3 separate regions of the Homo sapiens genome follow, and regions 2 and 3 are each linked to region 1. Evidence: fine-mapped expression QTL. A gene starts in region 1. Each other region holds a variant in brackets. All regions are shown on one strand. Distances are between the middles of the regions.

Region 1 (6,557 bases):
TGAGTATAAATTATTGTAACCATTTCAGATAACAGTTGATATTACTAGCAAATTTGCATATCCCCCGAAATCTACTATTAGGTATATACCTTACAGAAACTTCCACATTTGCCCTAGGAGATATGTTTTTACAGAAGCACCTTGTAATAACAAAAGTCTGGCAACAGTATAAATGCCTACCAACTGAAGAACTACATTAAAACAATATAATCATCCCATAGAATTCAAATCAGCAATGAAGACAAAGTAGAGCTCCTCACATCAACACGCATACTTCTCAGAAAGATAATGTTAAGTGCAACAAGCAAGTCACACAAAATATATTTTAGGATCCTATTACATAAAATCGAAAACTCAGCAAAAGCATACATTCATTCATTAGAAATACACACATACATGGTAAAAACTACAAAGCAAAACAAGGCAACAAGTAACACAATATTCAGGGCGGTGGTTATCTTTGAGGAGGGAAGAAAGGATTCAGTGGAGGGTCTGGCAATCTGAAAATGTCTATTTCTTAACTTGGTGGCAGGTACATGAGTGTTCATTTTATTTTTGTTCTTCAAACTTACACTTCCACACAATTGTATAGGTATGTTACATACAATGTTTTTAAATGTGATGGGCTGGGCATGGTGATTCACACCTGTAATCTCAATACTTTGGGAGGTCAAGGCGGGAGGACTGCTTGAGGCCAGGAGTTTAAGACCAGCCTGGGCAACATAGCAAGATCCACTCTCAACAACAACAACAACAACAAAATAATGTGAATATGTTAAATAACAGCCAAAATAAATGTAAATGAGAATGAGAACAGGATAGGATTGAATGCTATAATTTGGTGGAAAAGGAGTGGGAAAAGTAGGAGTGGAAGAAAGACAACCATAAGCTTGTTTATGCATATTATGTCCCTTGTCTCTATGAGAAGAGACTGTAGGGAGAATGGTGGGATTAGCATAGACATGTATTACCTACTTAAATAATTTTATTTTATACAAAAATCAGCCAGGCGTGGTGGTGCACGCCTGTAATCCCAGCTACTCAGAAGGCTAAGGCAGGAGAATCGCTTGAACCCAGGAGGTGGAGGTTGCAGTGAGCCAAGATCGCGTCACTGCACTCTAGCCTGGGCGACAGGGCGAGACTCTGTCACAAAAAGAAAAAAAAAATTACTTTTTTTAAAAAAATTAATTAAAACAGTTTATTGGCTTTAAATGTACATCAGTAAATTTTTAAATGCTAAAAAGTTATGATAAAATAATACAGAACCAAAACATCAAAGAAAATAGAGGCTCAGCAGCATGATTTCAATATATTTTCCCGGATAAACAGATTTTTTTTCTAAGTATATGCCTTTTTATTCAAGAACAAAAACTCCCTAAATTCAATGTTTAGAACTGAATTTTTTTTAACTAAGCCCAGAAAACTGGGGCTCATAAAATAAGGCATAATGTGGGCAGCAAAAGAAAAAAGGAGAAAAAAAATGGGAGAAAAATTGGTTTTAATCCCATGTATAATATAGGTTGGCTGGTTTTGTTTTTGTTTTAGCCAATTTAAGGCAGAATTATCTCTCTGCAACCTTGCAGATAAATCCTAGTGTTTTAGCCATAAGTTTCAAGAGTTCATATATACAGATAAACCAATTAAAAAAACCTTTTCGAAGGCTTTTGAAGCATTATATAAATCTTTAAAATTCCTATCACCCACATTTTAAGAAATACATCTATACGTTTAAATTTATTATTAAATTAATTAAATGCATTAATTAAATCAATTTATTTAAATTTAATAATTTTAAAATAGAAATGTTTGTGGAATAAGTAAATCTCAGTCATACCATTCGTGCGGGTGCTAACACAATTCTAGTGCTTCACATGCCCGACCTCATTTAACCCAAACCAGAACAACCTTATGAGCAAAGGGTCACTGACCCCATCTTACAGATGAGGAAACTGAGACTAAGAGGGCACAAGGTGACACACAAGAGTTGGTGGCAGAGATAGACGTGACCATACAACAGCACAGTTCCTGTTTTCAAGGACACTCTCTATCCAGCGAGAGTGAGAAAAGTGAGTGAACAGAACAACTACAATCCAGGTCCCTCATCTGCAACCCTCAAATCTAAAAAGGTATGAATACTAGTGGATGATCGGATGCAGGGGAAAAAAAAAAAAAAGTCTGAATACCAAAACTTGTTTAAGTTGGAAAACTTGACCTGACTTAAGGTGAGGCTATTTATGGTTATTTATCCCAACAGTGTAAATATATGCATTTTTTTTTTTGAGACGGAGTTTCGCTCTTGTTGCCCAAGCTGGAGTGAAGTGGCACGATCTTGATTCACTGCAACCTCCGCCTCCCGGGTTCAAGCGATTCTCCTGCCTCAGCCTTCCGTCTCAGCCTCCCGAGTAGCTGGGATTACAGGCACGCACCACCACGCCCGGCTAATTTTTTGTATTTTTAGTAGAGACAGGGTTTCACCATATTAGCCAGGCTGGTTTCGAACTCCGAACCTCAGGTGATCCGCCCCCCTCAGCTTCCCAAAGTGCTGGAATTATAGCCGTGGGCCACCGCGACCAGGTCAATGTAATATATGCGTATCTTCATAACTTTAGCTGTGGAAAGGGTCGTGTATTTGATTACAAGCCGCTGCTCCAGCCCCCTCTGAGGGTGAAACCTAACATAGAACATAGGGACTTTACCTTTCCAAACTCCGAGAACTCCTCGATTTTAAACGCATCTGGCCTCGGGGCTGTAACATAAGCGGCTGCGGACTTGTACAAAGTAAGAAACTCCGTACACAAAACAGAGGGGAGCACGGAGGGCGGCGGGACAAAGAGGGTGGTCGGCAAAGGCTGTATTTTCCATAGATGTAATCACAGTTTGAATCGAATTTTATATTTTGCTTTTTCACCTGTTACAATGAAAAGTATCTTTACCTGTTAAATCGTAATTACGATTAAAAATATTTTTCACTAAATAGTAAGATTTTTAGATGTCTGCGTGTGTGTTGCGGGAGGACATCCCAGTCCGCTGTTTTCTGCGGCCCCTGTCTGGGCCTCAGTTTCCCCATCAAGAAGGGGGAAACCCCAAGACCCCAGTCCCCGAGTTCCACAGCCCACGGGGACCGACCCCGGGGCCGGACCCCACTGCCTGTCTCGCCCACCCCACCTTCCGTCCTCCCCTCGCCTTCCTTGAAGTCCCTCTTCTTTCCCCTCCAACCCCTAGCTCCCCACGTTACCCACCAGGGAGCCCAAGCGCATCCCAGGCCGCGCTAGCGGATACGGTCGCAAGGTGGACTCTTCTTCCTTTGAGGCGGGGCGAACGCGAACGCGGCGTTCCCATTGGTGGCCTGCGGCTTATTCGCCCGTCCGTTGAGTGACGCACTTCCGGTTCTCCGTTTGCGCCATTGCCCTGGTGGTTCCGCCTCGTGGGTTAGATCCCAAATTACGCCCGCTCTCGATCCTTAATAATGGGAAGGGGCTTCCACTTGTCGCCCTCCGCCTCCTGCACCTCAGTGACTTCCCTGACCAAGGAGGAAGAATTGGCGTGCAGCCTGGGCTTCCCTCAATGGCCACCATTCCGCTGGCACAATGTAGTGCCCTGCCCCGGGCCTCAGTTTCCCCATCTGTGGAACTGAGTGTGGCCTCGACGTCAAAAATGTGGACTCTGGTCCGGTCGCGGTGGCTCACGCCTGTAAGTAATCCCAGCACTTTGGGAGACCAAGGCGGGCCGATCACTTGAGGTCAGGAGTTCGAGACCAGCTTGGCCAACATGGTGAAACCCCCGTCCCTACTAAAAATACAAAAAGTAGCCGGGCGTGGTGGTGTGTGCCTGTAATCCCAGCTACCCGGGAGGCTGAGGCAGGAGAATCACTTGAACCCGAGAGGCAGAGGTTGCAGTGAGCCAGATCGTACCACAGCACTCGAGCCTGGGTGACAGAGCTCAAAAAAAAAGAAAAGAAAAATGTGGACTCTGTGGTCATAGAGCCTGATCTAGAATCCTGGCTCTGCCACTTACTAGTTGGCAGGCGCTTGGGCAAGTCACTGAGCCTCAGTTTCCTCTTCCATTAAATGAGGATATTAGTTCTTGCAAAATAGTGTTGGTGAGATTTACAAGAGATAATAACACCTATATCAGGTGCTTAGCATGGCCATTGAAAAGTGTCACATGGGAGTGCTGATTATATGTTAACTGTTATCTTACCTAGGGATTGTGAGAAAGCAAGTGAAATTACTCGTGGAAGTGAATGGACTGCTTTGAGTCTTCAAGGCGTTAATTTTCCAAACGTTTGAATTCTATCCCTGGTCTGAGAGCTAGGGATGCAGCCTAGCAAGGGAAACAGGTAACTAATATAGAACAGCAGTACCTGCAAATATCTGTCTCTGTGAGGATAGATCAAATCCAGGCTTGGTCACTCACCACCCCTGTGATCTTGGACAACCTCTTAACCTCTCTGGGCTTCAGTTTCATCTGCTAAGTGGGAAAGCAGTGGTGTGTGGTGATTAAAAGCTTCAGCTTTGGAGCTGGATGGTCAACATGGAATCCTGGGCCTTAAACTCAGTGTCTCTGAGACATAGGACAAAGTACAGTCAGCTGTCCATGTTTACAGGTTCCCCATCTACGGATTGAAGCAACTGTGGGTGGTTAATATTTGTGGGGGAAAACAGTAAAAAATAACAGTTCAACAATAAAAATAATACAGATTCCGAAAGCAATACAGCATAGCAATTACTTATATAGCATTTACATTGTATTAAGTATTGTAAGTAATTTAAAGATGATTTTCAATATACTGGAGGATTTGTGTAGGTTAAATGCAAGTATTCTCGCATTTTGTAAGCACCCAATGGTTCTCCTTGCCTGCTTCCTAGACAGAACCAATTTATCAAGACAGGGGAATTGCAATAGAGAAAGTTTAATTCACACAGAGCTGGCTGAACAGGAGACCACAGTTTTATTATTACTCAAATCAGTCTCCCTGGAAATTCAGGGTTTTCAAGGATAATTTGGTGGCTGGAGGTGCTGGGGATTAGAGAGTGTTGATAGGTTGGATCAGAGAGGAAAGGAGTCAAAGCTGTCCTCTTGCACTGAGTCAGATCCTGGGTTAGGACCATAGGACCAGATTAGCCAGATTACAGGGCTGGGTGGCGTCAGCTGGTGCATTAGAACACGGGTTCTGCAAAATATCTCAAGCACTGATTTTAGGTTTTAGAACAGTGATGTTACTCCCGGAAGCAATCTGGGGAGGGTCAGAATCTTGTAGCCTCCAGCTTGCGTGACCTCCTAAACCATAATTTCTAATCTTTTAGCTAATTTGTTAGTCTACAAAGGCAGACCCGTTCCTAGGCAAGGAGGGGATTTGTTTTGGGAAAGGGCTATTATTGCCTTTGTTTCAAAGTTAAACTATAAACTAAGTTCTTTCCAACATTAATTCCACCTATGTCCAGGAATGATCAAGGACAGCTTGGAAGTTAGAAGCAAGATGGAGTCAGGCCAGATCTCTTTCACTATCATAATTTTCTCAGTTATGCTTTTTACAAAGGTGGTTTTGATTTTACATAAGGGACTTGAGCATCGAGAATTTTGGTATCCATGGGGACTAAGGTACCAATCCCTCACAGATACTAAGGGATGACTGAGCTCAAGTTTTCAGCTTCAGTTTGCTCATCTATAAAGCAGGTTTAATAATAACACTTTGTTGATAATGTTATTCTGAAGATTAAAGGAAGAGTAAACGTAAACTACTTAGAAGAGTGTCTCTGGCACATTGTAAGCCCTCAATAAGTGTGAACTAACACCACTAATAAGTTCTTTATAAACTGCCTAATAGGTAGTCAAATAAGAGGGGAAATAAAGCCCTAAGGAGTAATATTTGTGTTTTGTTTGCCCTACATGGTTTTGTGAAATTTTCTATTCATTATCAATATTTAAAGTTGGGGTTTTCAATCTTTGACTGGGCATGATGGCTCATTCCTGTAATTCCAACACTTTGGGAGGCCCAGCTGGGAGGATGGCTTGAGCTCAGAAGTTTGAGATCAGCCATGGCCAACATGGTGAGGCCCCCATCTCTACAAAAAAAATATATACGCGCGCGCGCACACACACACACACACACACACACACGCAAAAATTAGCCAGGCATGGTGGTGAACACCTGTGGTCCCAGCTACTCAAGAGGCTGAGGTGGGAGGACAGCTTGAGCCAAGGAGGAAGAGGTTGCAGTGAGCTGAGATTGCATCACTGCACTCCAGCCTGTGTGACAGAGCCAGACTCTGTCTCAAAAATAAATAAATAAACTTGGGACATTTCACATAAAACCCTACTGTAGCTGACTGCTCTGGAAAAGTGGGGAAGTCTGACGACAGTGGGCCAGCCTTCCCCCATGGCAGCACTTGTTCAGAACTTGGGAGAGACCGTCCCCTTTTGTGAAGCATGTGCTTCCCTGGTGTGTGGAGAGATAAAAGAATAGAAAACGCTGGGAACACCAGCATTTCAAGATCAAAGCGTCAAGAAAAAAAGGTAGAAAGAAAAGAAAGATTCAAGACTGAGGGGGTTGGTCT
Region 2 (6,557 bases), 31 kb before region 1:
CCAAATCCCTACCTGTGAGAGTAAATCTGAAAACCACTGAAGGCCCCACCCACATGGCCTGCAATCCTTGACACTCCTACAGAGTTTCTTTTCATAGCTTCTATGTCTTATTCTAAATAAAAAACCATTTTCTCCCTTTATTCCTAATATTCTATACATTTGGAGTGACTTCTTTGCAAAGAACTGTCCAAAAGAGAAATCAAACCAAAGCAAACACAGGCTGCCTGGGCCCTGTTCCAGCTCCTCAAAAATGCCACTAGAGGGCTCTGCCGGGCACTCACCAACGCATAAATGGGTCTCCCATCATCTTCCGTGACTCCTCTCTTTATCTCAATATACAAGGACTCCAAGACACTGTTAATGTTGTTGATGAAGTCCTCCAACTTATCTACGGTGGCATTGCCTGGAAATAAACAGACCAAAAAAAGGGGGGTGACCAGGGGGCCTCATCAAAAAAATGTAGCTTGCTTGAATCATTCCATCCCATCTCAACGCAGGGGACAGCAACCCCAGACATGGGTGGAGGCTGCAGCCTCTTGGGTGAACGCCAATGCCACGTGGCTTCTTTCTTCCTGGAGTACTTGGAAGACAAACAGACAACAGATGGAGGGCGTTGTGAGGCAGGAGGGCCAGGGAGATGCTATCTGCAACCACGGAGGCTGCCGCGGGCTTCCTGTCTTTGCTCGCTGCCTCCTGATGAGAGTCCCAATCAGCACCTTCAGCGCATTACTCAATGATGTGCTCAGAGCCTGCGTGAGCTCCCGCCGCACAAACATCCTATCCCATCTCAGCCCTTCTATCGCATCCCCAGTGCCCCGCGAGAGGCCTCTGTCCCTGTATGTCCCCACACATCTTAGGTGGAGCTTTATTCCTTTCTCTTTTTATTCAATGTCGGGTTATCCTCACTTACATGCCAGGCTTGTGCTGGGTCCTGGGCTGGAACAGTAAGAATAACAACAAACGGGGTGAGAAGGGTGGCTTGCAGCGAGCCCTCAGCATGGAGAGGCCCTGTCCTGGGCACCTTTTGTCGTCATGAATCCACCCTCCAGCAGCTCTCTGGGCACAGGGGAAGAGGCTGAGACGCAGAGAGGTGAACTGACTCGCCCAGAGTTGCACCACAAGGCCGGGGCTTTGACTTCTCTGTCGCCCACCTCCCCTGGCCCTGCCAGCAGGATGCTCACAGCCCAGGGGCCACCATCCAGGTCCATCAGTCTGAGGAGGGGGCACCCACACTATTGCCGGGGGCTCAGCTGAGGAGGACAGAGAGGCTGCGGTGAGGACAGGAGCCCGTGGCCGGGGACAGCAGGGCCTTTCTCCTGTGGCACCAGGAAGCCTCTGAGCACTGGAAGCAGTGGAAGGACATGGCCAGCGTTGTGTCCCTTTTATGCTGTGAAACTTTTTTTTTTTTTTTTTTTTTTTTGAGACAGAGTCTTGCTCTCGCCCTGGCTGGAGTGCAGTAGCACAGTCTTGGCTCACTGCAACCTCCACCTCCCGGGTTCAAGCAGTTCTCCTGCCTTAGCCTCCCGAGGAGTTGAGATTACAGGCATGCACCACCACACCCAGCTAATTTTTGTATTTTTAGTAGAGATGGGGTTTTACCATGTTGGCCAGGCTGGTCTCGATCTCCTGACCTCAAGTGTTCCGCCCACCTCAGCTTCCCAAAGTGCTGGGATTATAGGCGTGAGCCACCACGCCCAGCTTGTGCTGTGAAACTTTTTAAAGCAAGAGTATGTATTATTGTTTTCACTACTGTTTTTATGTATTAAAATAAATAATTTCAAAAGATTCATGCCTTAGAAAATCATTCTGGAAAAAAAACTGCAAGAAAAAATGGACAATATGATACATTCATGTGTGAAACAAAAACAGAACCAATGAAACAGTCCCACAGGAAAAGGCCCAGCAGGTTACCCACTGGACTGACGACCAAGGCCATCGCCAGGAAGGGACTAAACGAAGGGTCATCACAGGGCACTCGTGCTGTATGTCTGTGTTTGATTTCTTATTAGACAGAGGCATTTCTAAGCTACCCGTACAACTCAAGATTCATAAAGTTAAAAAAAAAAACAACAGAAGATCATGCTGGTGACAATGGAGGATGTGGCCGTGTGAAAGAGTCAAGGAAAACCCAGGCCAATGAGCTCTGTCAGAGGATCAGACTGTGGGGCCCAGAAAAGCTGAGAACAAAGCCCAGGGCAGTGACACTAATGTGCCATGCTCAGCGAGGAGCTAATCTTCCCTTTCAGTTAAGTTTTTAAAAGGCAGTTTAAATTAAAAAGTAGTCATAGTAAGTGGGTGGAACATGGATGTGGTGAGATCGTAACATATGACAATGACATCTGGCCTCGGCGGCTGGAGAGCAGGCATCAGGAGGGAGGCATGGCCTGACTTCCTGCCTCCATGCCCCTGCTCACGGGCCCCTCCTTTCTGAAAACTCCTCTCCCTCCACTGCGGCAGCCACCTTGGATGGCCTGTTTTTCCAGGAAATGTTCTCTTCTGCCCCCGGTGCTGTCTTCCTCTTCCACAGCATGCAAGGCAGCTCTTTGCTGGCGTGGGAGCCGAGCTGTTCCGTACCTGCCTGTGCCAGTGACTTGGCCAGACACACTTTTCCACCCCCAAGGGGAGCCAACGCTGGGCAGCTCAGGTGCAAGAGGCCCAGACATCAAAAAGCCTCGTTCAGTGCGGAGTGAGTGACAGGAACCCTGTCCACCCAGTGTGACACTGGGGCAAGTCCCACCTCTCTGAAAGTGACAATTCACATTTTCCACTAACGAGGCCCCTCCTGGGTATCACTGAGAACAATGTGCCCTGTGGGCAGATGAGAAGCATTCTGATCTATTGGACTTTCCAGACACCCCGTTGCAGGGAGGGAGCCAGCAGCCCTCTCTGCCCTTCCCCTCTCCACACCACCTCTGGTTTGGCGTCCAGCCTCATTTTTCAGAAACCATGAATGTTTTGCTGTATTTTCATCTGACCAACCACTTCCTCCTACTGTACTCGCTCACTGCACACACCAGCCACTGCTTGGGCGCTCCCGTTCTCTCCGCTATCGCCCTCTTTCCTTCCACACGCTTCCTGCATCAGGGTCATGTCCACGATCTCCATCGCTGACCCTGTAACTGTTTCTCACGGAGGCCCCGCGCCCTTGCAGCTCCTCTTAATCGTGACCTGAGAAGAAACTTCTCTTACACTCAGCACCCCCAAACCCTTCAACTGACTCCTTTCAGCAGCAACAGAGGTGGCGTGGTGGCATGGGGCCAGA[A/G]GCAGAGGTGTGGGCTCTAGCCCATCCTGCCCTCCCGCTCTGTGGGGCCCTGCGTGAGCCTCTCCCCCACTTCTCATCTCTAACAGCCACACACAGTCTCGCCTCCAGCCTCACACATGTCCAGAACCCTCTTCCCTCCCGCTTCTCTACCACCACCCCTGGCTGGACCCCAGCCTCCTGATCCTCTGGCAGCCTCCCGTACAGGCCTTCCCCAACCAGATAAGCTGCACTTCCCAGCTCTGTCCTCCCATGGCAGCACTTCCTTCCTCATCACGTGGCACTCCAGTTACTGTGTCCAGCCGCCGCCCCAAGACAGGAGTCAGCTGGTGACACCTGCCAGCCCAGCAGCCATGTCCCTCCCTAACGAGACCTTCGCCTTTTTTCTTTTTTTTTTTTTACAATTGTCTTTCTCTTACATTTGCGGTTTTGGTGAGAGAATAATTCCAGGTATGATATTCAGGGAACCAGAAAGCAGAAAGCTGAAGGGACCAGAGATTAGGGCAGCCAGGAGTAGACAGAGAACCCCTATCAGCCAGACACTCTCCCAATCTGAGCAAGGGACAAAAGGAAGCTTGGAGGTGGCTCCAGCCCAGAAGCTACAGAGGGCCAGCTGCTCTGGCCATGAGGTGATGCCATGCTTCCTGCCTATCCCCAACTGTGCACCTGGCCACCAATGAGTCCTATGTGTCCCTCCCCCAATAGCATCCCGACACATTTTTTTTTTTTTTTGAGATGGAGTGTCACTCCATTGCCCAGGCTGGAGTGCAGTGGCACAGTCTCAGCTCACAGCAACCTCCACCTCCCAGGTTCAAGCGATCCTCCTGCCTCAGCCTCCCCAGGCACTGGGACTACAGGTGTTTCACCACCACACCTGGCTAATTTTTTGTATTTTTAGTAGAGATGGGATTTCACTATGTTGGCTGGTCTGGTCTCAAACTCCTGACCTCAAGTGATCTGCCCACCTGTCTCCCCAAGTTTTGGGATTACAGGCGTGAGCCACCGTGCCCAGCCCCGACACATTCCTTTCTAAGTTGACCAGAACTGGGGTCTCTTGCTTGCTCCCAAGATCCTTATGATGTCCACTAAGCGCTAAGGTTGCACCAGATCGCTGCTTCCCAGCCTCAGGTCTTCAGGACAGCTAATGTCCACAGCTCTGCCCCTGGTCTCTCCCCTGATCCAGGAGCCCTGGTGGAGAAGCTACAGTTTGCCAATCTGTAGGGATACACTGGGCTAAAGGCATGTCTGAGGATCCTTTTGACCTCAATATTCTACGAGCCCATGGTCATGATAAAGAGTGCGGAATAAAGTCCGTATGGTGAGATTCTGAGACAACTACTTTCAGTCTTAGAAATACCACTTTGAAGACTTAGGAGTTAATTAACAACACCACTCCTTTTCAGAATCCAGAACCAACTGAAGAAAAAGACACAACCTTCAGTAAATATCAAAACATCAGGTTTTCTGTAGGTAGCGCTGGATCAGAGGCTGGTTCTCTGCACACCACCAACCTCCAGTCAGTGATATGGGAGGCCCAGCTATGAGGACAGAGGAACGAGGCCCTGGCCCTAGCACAGATGTCTCCTCTAGAGGGAAAGAGATACCCTAGCCAGGACAACCAGCAACATGTTTAAATCAAGCAAGTTGAACCTCTAAACCTCTAAACACAGTGCTATCTGTGTTCTCTCTACTTGGAAGAGGCAGGGTGTGTCTGGATTTCTTAAGGGCTATAGTAAAGTAGCTCATGTTAGGCTAAAATCAAGGGGCCTGCAAATGTGTGGCTATGATTACCTTATTATGTGCCAGCACTATGCATTCACATGGTTCATTTCATCATGACAATAACAGTAACTCCGTAAGATGAAATCACTAGTATCATCTGTATATACAGGAGGCTTGGAGAGGTTAACAACTTGCTCATAGTTTCCGTAACTTGGAAGGAAATGGAGCCCGGGCTTGCCCAACCCCAGATCCTAAGCTCCCAGGCACTAAGCCCCATGGGCTCCACAGAACAAGCCTGAGGACATCCTCTATACCAGACCCCACCGTCATCTCGTCTATACCCTCCTGCACCTGCCCTGTGCTTCAGAGTCACCAAGAGAGACTGGGCCAACAGGGAAGGATGGAAGGCATCTGGGCACCTGATTAGGACACCAGAGGTGGTACCCAAAGAGGAGCTGCACTCACAGAGGAGATGCATTGGATCAGCCCGGCCTGGCCCAGCCCAGCATCCATCATCCCCTCAGCTCAGACCAGCCCAGCATCCATCATCCCCTCAACCCAGCTCAGCCCAGCATCCATCATCCCCTCAACCCAGCCCACCCCAGCATCCATCATCCCCTTGGCCCAGCCCTGAGCACTGGGCCAGGTCCAGCGTGCAGGGACAGCATGCAGGGCAGCAGGAGCAGCTGAGGAAAGGCAAAGACCCTGGAGCGAACAGAGCCACTCTTCCTTTAACAGGAAATGCCCATCAGTGGTGGCAATTGAAAACGGGCCTCCAGGCAAGTGACAAGCACTGAACAAAACAGGACACTTCTCCCCTAAGGAGAAGGGTTGGCTCAAGTCATCTTGAGAGATTTTGTTTTGGACTAATTCTGTATACAGTTTCTCCTTTTCTTTTAAAATTAAATTTTAAGGCCAGGTGTGGTGGCTTACACCTGTAATCACAGTACTTTGGAAGGCCAAGGCAGGAGGATCATTTGAGGCCAGGAGTTCAAGACAAGCCTGAGCAATGGATCAAGAGCTCATCTCTACAAAAAAATTTAAAAATCAGCCAGGCATGGTGGCATGTGGCTATAGTCTCAGCTACTTGGGAGGCTGAGGCAGGAGGATAGCTTGAGCCCAGGAGTTGGAGACTGCAATGAGCTATGATCGCATCACTGCATTCTAGCCTGGGTGACAGAGCTAGGCCATCTCTCAAAAAATGAAAGAAATGATTAAGTTACATTGGAATGTAATGTTACCAATGAGCCTCTTCTTGCTATATCAGGGTCCCTGCTTCCCAGAGGCTACTGGAACCTAGGATTCACTGTGCACTTGGGCAACAGGAAATTGGGAAGTCTACTGCCCTGACCTCTGACCAACAAATAGTTTTGTTCTAAACTAGGCAATAAAAACATAAAATGTTATTTTTAGGCAGAGGAAATAACAGCAAAAAATAAGACTCCAAGGGCCCAAGCCACTGTGAGCCAACTTACCCTCTGACAGCCCTCCCGACAGACAGGGTGGACGGGCGGTCCTGCTAGCACAGCACTGAGGACAGGGCAGGGCAGGCCCTGGATGAGACGGGGGTGCAGGA
Region 3 (5,000 bases), 80 kb after region 1:
GGGGAGTCACTGCATAGATCCTCACATAGAGGCCGCTTCTCCCGCAGTGAAACCCAGGGCCCCAGGAAACCTGACAGTTCACACCAATGTCTCCGACACTCTGCTGCTGACCTGGAGCAACCCGTATCCCCCTGACAATTACCTGTATAATCATCTCACCTATGCAGTCAACATTTGGAGTGAAAACGACCCGGCAGATGTGAGTGGGCATGCTTTGACGTTTTTCTGTGACCTCTGGGGAACAGGGTGGGTGACCAGCAGAGGCCCAGTCCCTGGAGCCAGGAGCCTGGGAGGCAAGCCCTGGGGCTGGATAGCAAATCCCAGGAGCTAGAGACCTGGCTTCTCACCTGGCTCTGCACTAGGCAAGTCCCTTTGCTTCCTGGCCCCCCACCCCTCACATCAGAGAAGGGGAGTTATCTCTGCATGCCGCTCCTCCTCTGTAAAGGTAGGGCTGTGGGCCACATCTGTGTTTCCCAGTTTGGGGGACACAAGTGATCGTAGGTGGCACATTGACAGCTCACTTGAATAACCCTATTATTGAAGAGAATAATACTGACTCAAGAGACAGTGACCCGTGTCAGTTCCCTTTTGAGGCCAACGGGTTAAGGAGGAAGTCCCCATACAGCTGACTCGTTTACTAATTCCTCTTAATGAAGAGAGCAGAGGCCACACCCCAGGCTTAGACTTTCCCAAGAAAACAAGATCAGTTTGTTGGTTGTTCCCCATGGAAGCTGGTCCTGACATTCCCTTCACAGTAGTGTTGGTGGAGTTTTTGTTGTTGTTTGTTTTGAGACAGAGTCTCACTCTGTCACCCAGGGTGGAACACAGTGGCGTGATCTTGGCTCACTGCAACCTCCGCCTCCTGGGTTCTAGCGATTCTCCTGCCTCAGCCTCCTGAGCAGCCGGGACTACAGGCACCTGCCACCGTGCCCAGCTAATTTTTGTATATTTAGTAGAGATGGGGTTTCACTGCGTTGGCCAGGCTGGTCTCAAACTCCTGACCTCAGATGATCCACTCGCCTTGGCCTCCCAAAGTGCTGGGATTACAGGTGTGAGCCACCGCACCTGGCCAGTGGAGTTCCTTCTTAAGTACATGTATTGACATCTTTAAAAAGGGCGAGAGGATTTACAGGAAACTATCAGGTCAGTAATGGCAGGGGCCGTCCACAGTGGGTGGCTGAGTCCCCCTATTTTTCTGCTGGTGTGCAGGGAGGTCATTTCCTGCCACCCATGTTTCCCCACCCTGAATCCACCTTCCTCACATTCCCATTGGAGGGACAATCTCTGGACATATGGGACCTGGGGTCCCACAGGGCTGCAATCCAATGCCTGCTGTGCCACTCGCCAGCTGTGTGATGTTGGGCATATCCCATAACCTCTTTGTGCCTCAGTTTCCTCATCTGTAACACAGGAGTGACAAGAGCACCCGCCCACAGGGCTATGACAGTACAAGGTGTGTGATACAGATGAGCTCCCCTGTTTGGCCCACATGTGTCCTAAAAGCCATGTGCCCTTTCTCTTGAGTGCCCCAGGCCACAGAGATCCCCATCTGCCCGCTGTCCCACACACTGGTCTGTCATTTGTTCCTTGAGGTTTGTGAGGGCCGGCTCTGTGCATCCCAGGGGCCCAGGCTGGGCCTGGTTGGCTCTCAGGGAGCAGGCACCCGCCACCTTAAGCTCCCATGCTGGTGTCTGTCACTGCTTCCTCTCAATCTGGCCAAGCCAGGGGTGTCGATTTATATCTCTCAGGTCTGGTTTCCCCTTTGGCACTGGGCCAGGTATGGGGAAAGAGCAGGAATGGGGCAGTTGGCTCACACAGCAGAGGCTCAGAAAGCGGGGGGCATGGGGGGAAGGAGTGCACAGATGCTAGAGAGTGGGGCAAGTTTTGTTTGGTCAATAAATCTCCTTCTCATGCCCCAGGCCTGTGCAAGACCTACAGAGAGTCCCAAGGATGGGCTGGGGGGAAGAGAAAGGTACCACCTTCAGAGTCCAAAGATATGTTATTTAATATTTTCATATTTCTAGATCTGCCTTCAGGCATGGCTGGATCCAGCTTCTAGGAACCTGTCCAGCTCTGCGCCCTGCTTTATTCTGTA[C/T]TGGCTTCGTTTTTAGGCAGGCTCTTCCCTCATGTAGTGGCAGATATGCCTACTAGTTGCTCCAGGCCTACATCCCAAAGCCACAGTGGGAAAAGGGTTTTTTTTCTTGACGGTTCTAATAAGAGTCCTAAGGCTGCTGCTCAGTGGCCTGGCTTCGATGCTGTGCCAGCCTCTGAACCAATCACTGGCTGTGGGTGGAGAGAGGGTGCTGGTGGAGGGCCCTGCTTGTCCAGGGAGGAGTCACATACCTGCCTCTAGGGCTGCAGGTGGGCTCAGCTCCATCCAAACCAGATGAACTGAAAATAAGGCAGGAGTGGCTTCCCCAGGGGAAACTGGGGAAGAGGAAGCAGGACTGTGCTGGCTAAAATGCCAGCCAGGTTTAAGACGTGGCACCAGATGCCAGTCATGGGATTGGATTGGTCAGCATGCCTGGGCTATGGCTTAGGGGTATGTTGGTGCTCAGGGATGCCACAGGCCTCCAGATACCAGGTCTGAGGCAGAAGAATGAAGTCCAGCTTCTCTTGTGGGTGGAACAGTGGCAACTGAGATACCCCATCTCTCCCTTCCCAAGAACAGAGCTGAACATAAAGAATTTAGTGATTGGCCAGAGCTTGGCCACATGCTCCCCTCTGATGAATGATAGGCCAGGTGATGGGATTGGCACAATTGGCTTAGACTAATGAGGGTTGGCCCTGGAGTTGCAGGCAGTGGAGTTCTGTCCTAAGCAGTGGGCACCTAAACCCGATGGCATAAAAGCTGGGCGGGTGTCCACCTGCATCTGCCACAGCACTATAGGCACCAACTGTGGCTCATACTGAGTGGGATAAATTCCAGAAAGAAACATTAGGAACTTACTATAGAATTTTGGGGCTAGAGCTACTCATTCATTCCCCTAGATAATTTCTAGGCAAGGTTCCATAGTGGAGGGGGAGTTTTGGCTTGGGCATTGAAGGATGCATAGGAGTTTTCTAGATGGGGAAAGAAGGGAACGGTAGACCAGGCAGAGGGAACTGCATGATAAAAGGTTTATGGGTGTGAAAATTCATGGAATGTTTGAGGATTATGGGGTTGGGGGATGTGGGAATATGTGTAGCGATAAAGCACCAAACAAAGCCAAAAGTTTAGTTAGAGCCCTGAATGCCTGCCTCATAATGGTTTCCATATTTTATATGCCTACTATGTGCCAGGCACATTGCTCAGGGTCACACAGCTGGAAATGGCAGGGCTGAGTTTTTGTTGTTGTTGTTGTTGTTGAGACAGAGTCTCACTCTATCACCCAGGCTGGAATGCAGGGGCGTGATCATGGCTCACTGCATCCTTGACTTCCTGGGATCAGGTGATTCTCCCACCTCTGCCTCCCAGGTAGCTGGGACTACAGGCACAGGCCACCACGCCAGGCTAATTTTTTGTATTTTTAGTAGCGACAGGGTCTCGCCATGTTGTCCGGGCTGGTCTGGATCTCCTGGCTTCAAGTGATCCCCCTGGCTCAGCCTCCCAAGGTGCTGGGATTACAGGCTTGAGCCACCGCATCCAGCCCAGATCTGAGATTTGCACCCAGTATTTGAACTCCCAAGCCTGTGCTCTTTTTCCTCCCATGGACATTTCTCTCAGAGATGGTCTCCCAAACACCTGTCCTTCTTGTTAAAAAACAGACAAACCGCAAGTAGTTCTTTGGAAGCTCAGATTTCTCTTTTGTTTCTTAGTAAAACATTTCCCAGTTCCCAGCTCCCTTCCAGGGTGTAAGATTTCTTCGGTAACTTACATCTAGCTGTTGCTTCTTGTTTGCTCATGTTTAGAAAGAAAGACAAAAGAGAGTGAGAATTTTCTCTCCCTTCCCCAGTCTCCCCACAACTCACACCCCACCCTCAGCTCCCTCTGTAATAGGAAAATCTCTGAACTCTCTGTAGTTGCTCCAGCAATCTTTTGGAACTTTGCTTCTTTCTTGTGAAAAAACCTCCCCTTGGCTCACTTTGCACCAGGTTTCCCCAAATGTGCTTCCAACCACAAGCAGAAATGGAGCTGCCAGTAACCAGGAAGAAACTGCCGGGGGCTGAGGAAGAGGAGAGGGAGGTGCATAGCCCTGGATCTCGCAGGGAGAGGGGTGACAGGATGAGAACTCAGGTTGCTCACTTGCCATCAGGGTCAGTCATGAATATAGCGTTCATGTATCACTTTTTAAAGCTTTTTTGGAGGGTAAAAGTAATAGTTACACAAAATAAAAATACAAATGGTACAAAAGGACTTAGAATGGAAACATGTTTCTCTCCCGACTCCAGCCTCCTGTTTTTCTTCCCAGAGACTGACCACTGCTGTCTGTCTCTTGCCAGAAGGGAAAGGGAGGCAAGGTTAGGGCAGGCAGAGGGCATGTGCATCCTTTAGAGAGAGCTTATGTCTATACAAGCAAATGTGTGTGTTCAGTCATCGCTGTCTTAGTTTTCTATTGCTGCATAATAATGGTACTACCAGCTTCACAGCTTTAAACAACACCCATTTATTATCTCATAGTTTCTGTGGTTGGGAGTCTGGACATAGCTTAGCCAGGTTCTCTGCTTTAGAGTCTCGTGAGGCTATAATCAAGGTGTGGGATGGGGCTGCAGTTTCATCTGAGGCTCAATTGGGGAAGGGTCACTTCTAAGCTCATACAATATTGGTGACATTCAGTCCCTGGCAGGCTGTTGAACTGAGAGCCTCAGTTTCGTGCTGGCTGTTGGTTGTAGTTAACCCTGAATTCCTTCCCATGTGCCCTTTGCAAAGCCATCAAGGCAGAGAGACTTGCCTAGCAAGTAGGATATTACAGTCTTCTGTAATATAATCACATCCATGAAATCCTCTATATATCCCATCACCTTTACCATATTCTGTGGGTTAGAAACAAGTAGCAGGTCCTGCCCACACTCGAGAAGAC

The links. PIP is the estimated chance that this variant, and not a neighbour inherited with it, causes the effect.
Region 2: its variant is the best candidate, but not a certain one, in a credible set for the expression of NSMCE1 in blood mononuclear cells (TOPMed, PIP 0.65).
Region 3: its variant is the best candidate, but not a certain one, in a credible set for the expression of NSMCE1 in whole blood (TOPMed, PIP 0.89).

The regions. Positions count from the first base shown.
Region 1 is chr16:27,265,467-27,272,023 of GRCh38, forward strand. NSMCE1 (NSE1 component of SMC5/6 complex) reads right to left here and starts at 3,306. Exons shown (of 8, transcript NM_145080.4): 1 at 3,240-3,306. NSMCE1-DT (NSMCE1 divergent transcript) reads left to right here and starts at 2,739. Exons shown (of 5, transcript NR_037184.1): 1 at 2,739-2,778. RefSeq lists a silencer at 3,200-3,279 and an enhancer at 6,188-6,557.
Region 2 is chr16:27,234,897-27,241,453 of GRCh38, forward strand. It overlaps NSMCE1 (NSE1 component of SMC5/6 complex), which reads right to left. Exons shown (of 8, transcript NM_145080.4): 3 at 282-403. Among named protein-coding and RNA genes, the nearest start is that of NSMCE1-DT, 30 kb to the right of the region's middle. RefSeq lists enhancers at 694-783, 964-1,488, 2,409-2,478, 2,829-2,948, 3,352-3,646. The variant A/G (reference allele first, on the strand shown) is at 3,263.
Region 3 is chr16:27,346,420-27,351,419 of GRCh38, forward strand. IL4R (interleukin 4 receptor) reads left to right here. Exons shown (of 11, transcript NM_000418.4): 6 at 48-199. Among named protein-coding and RNA genes, the nearest start is that of IL4R, 35 kb to the left of the region's middle. The variant C/T (reference allele first, on the strand shown) is at 2,096.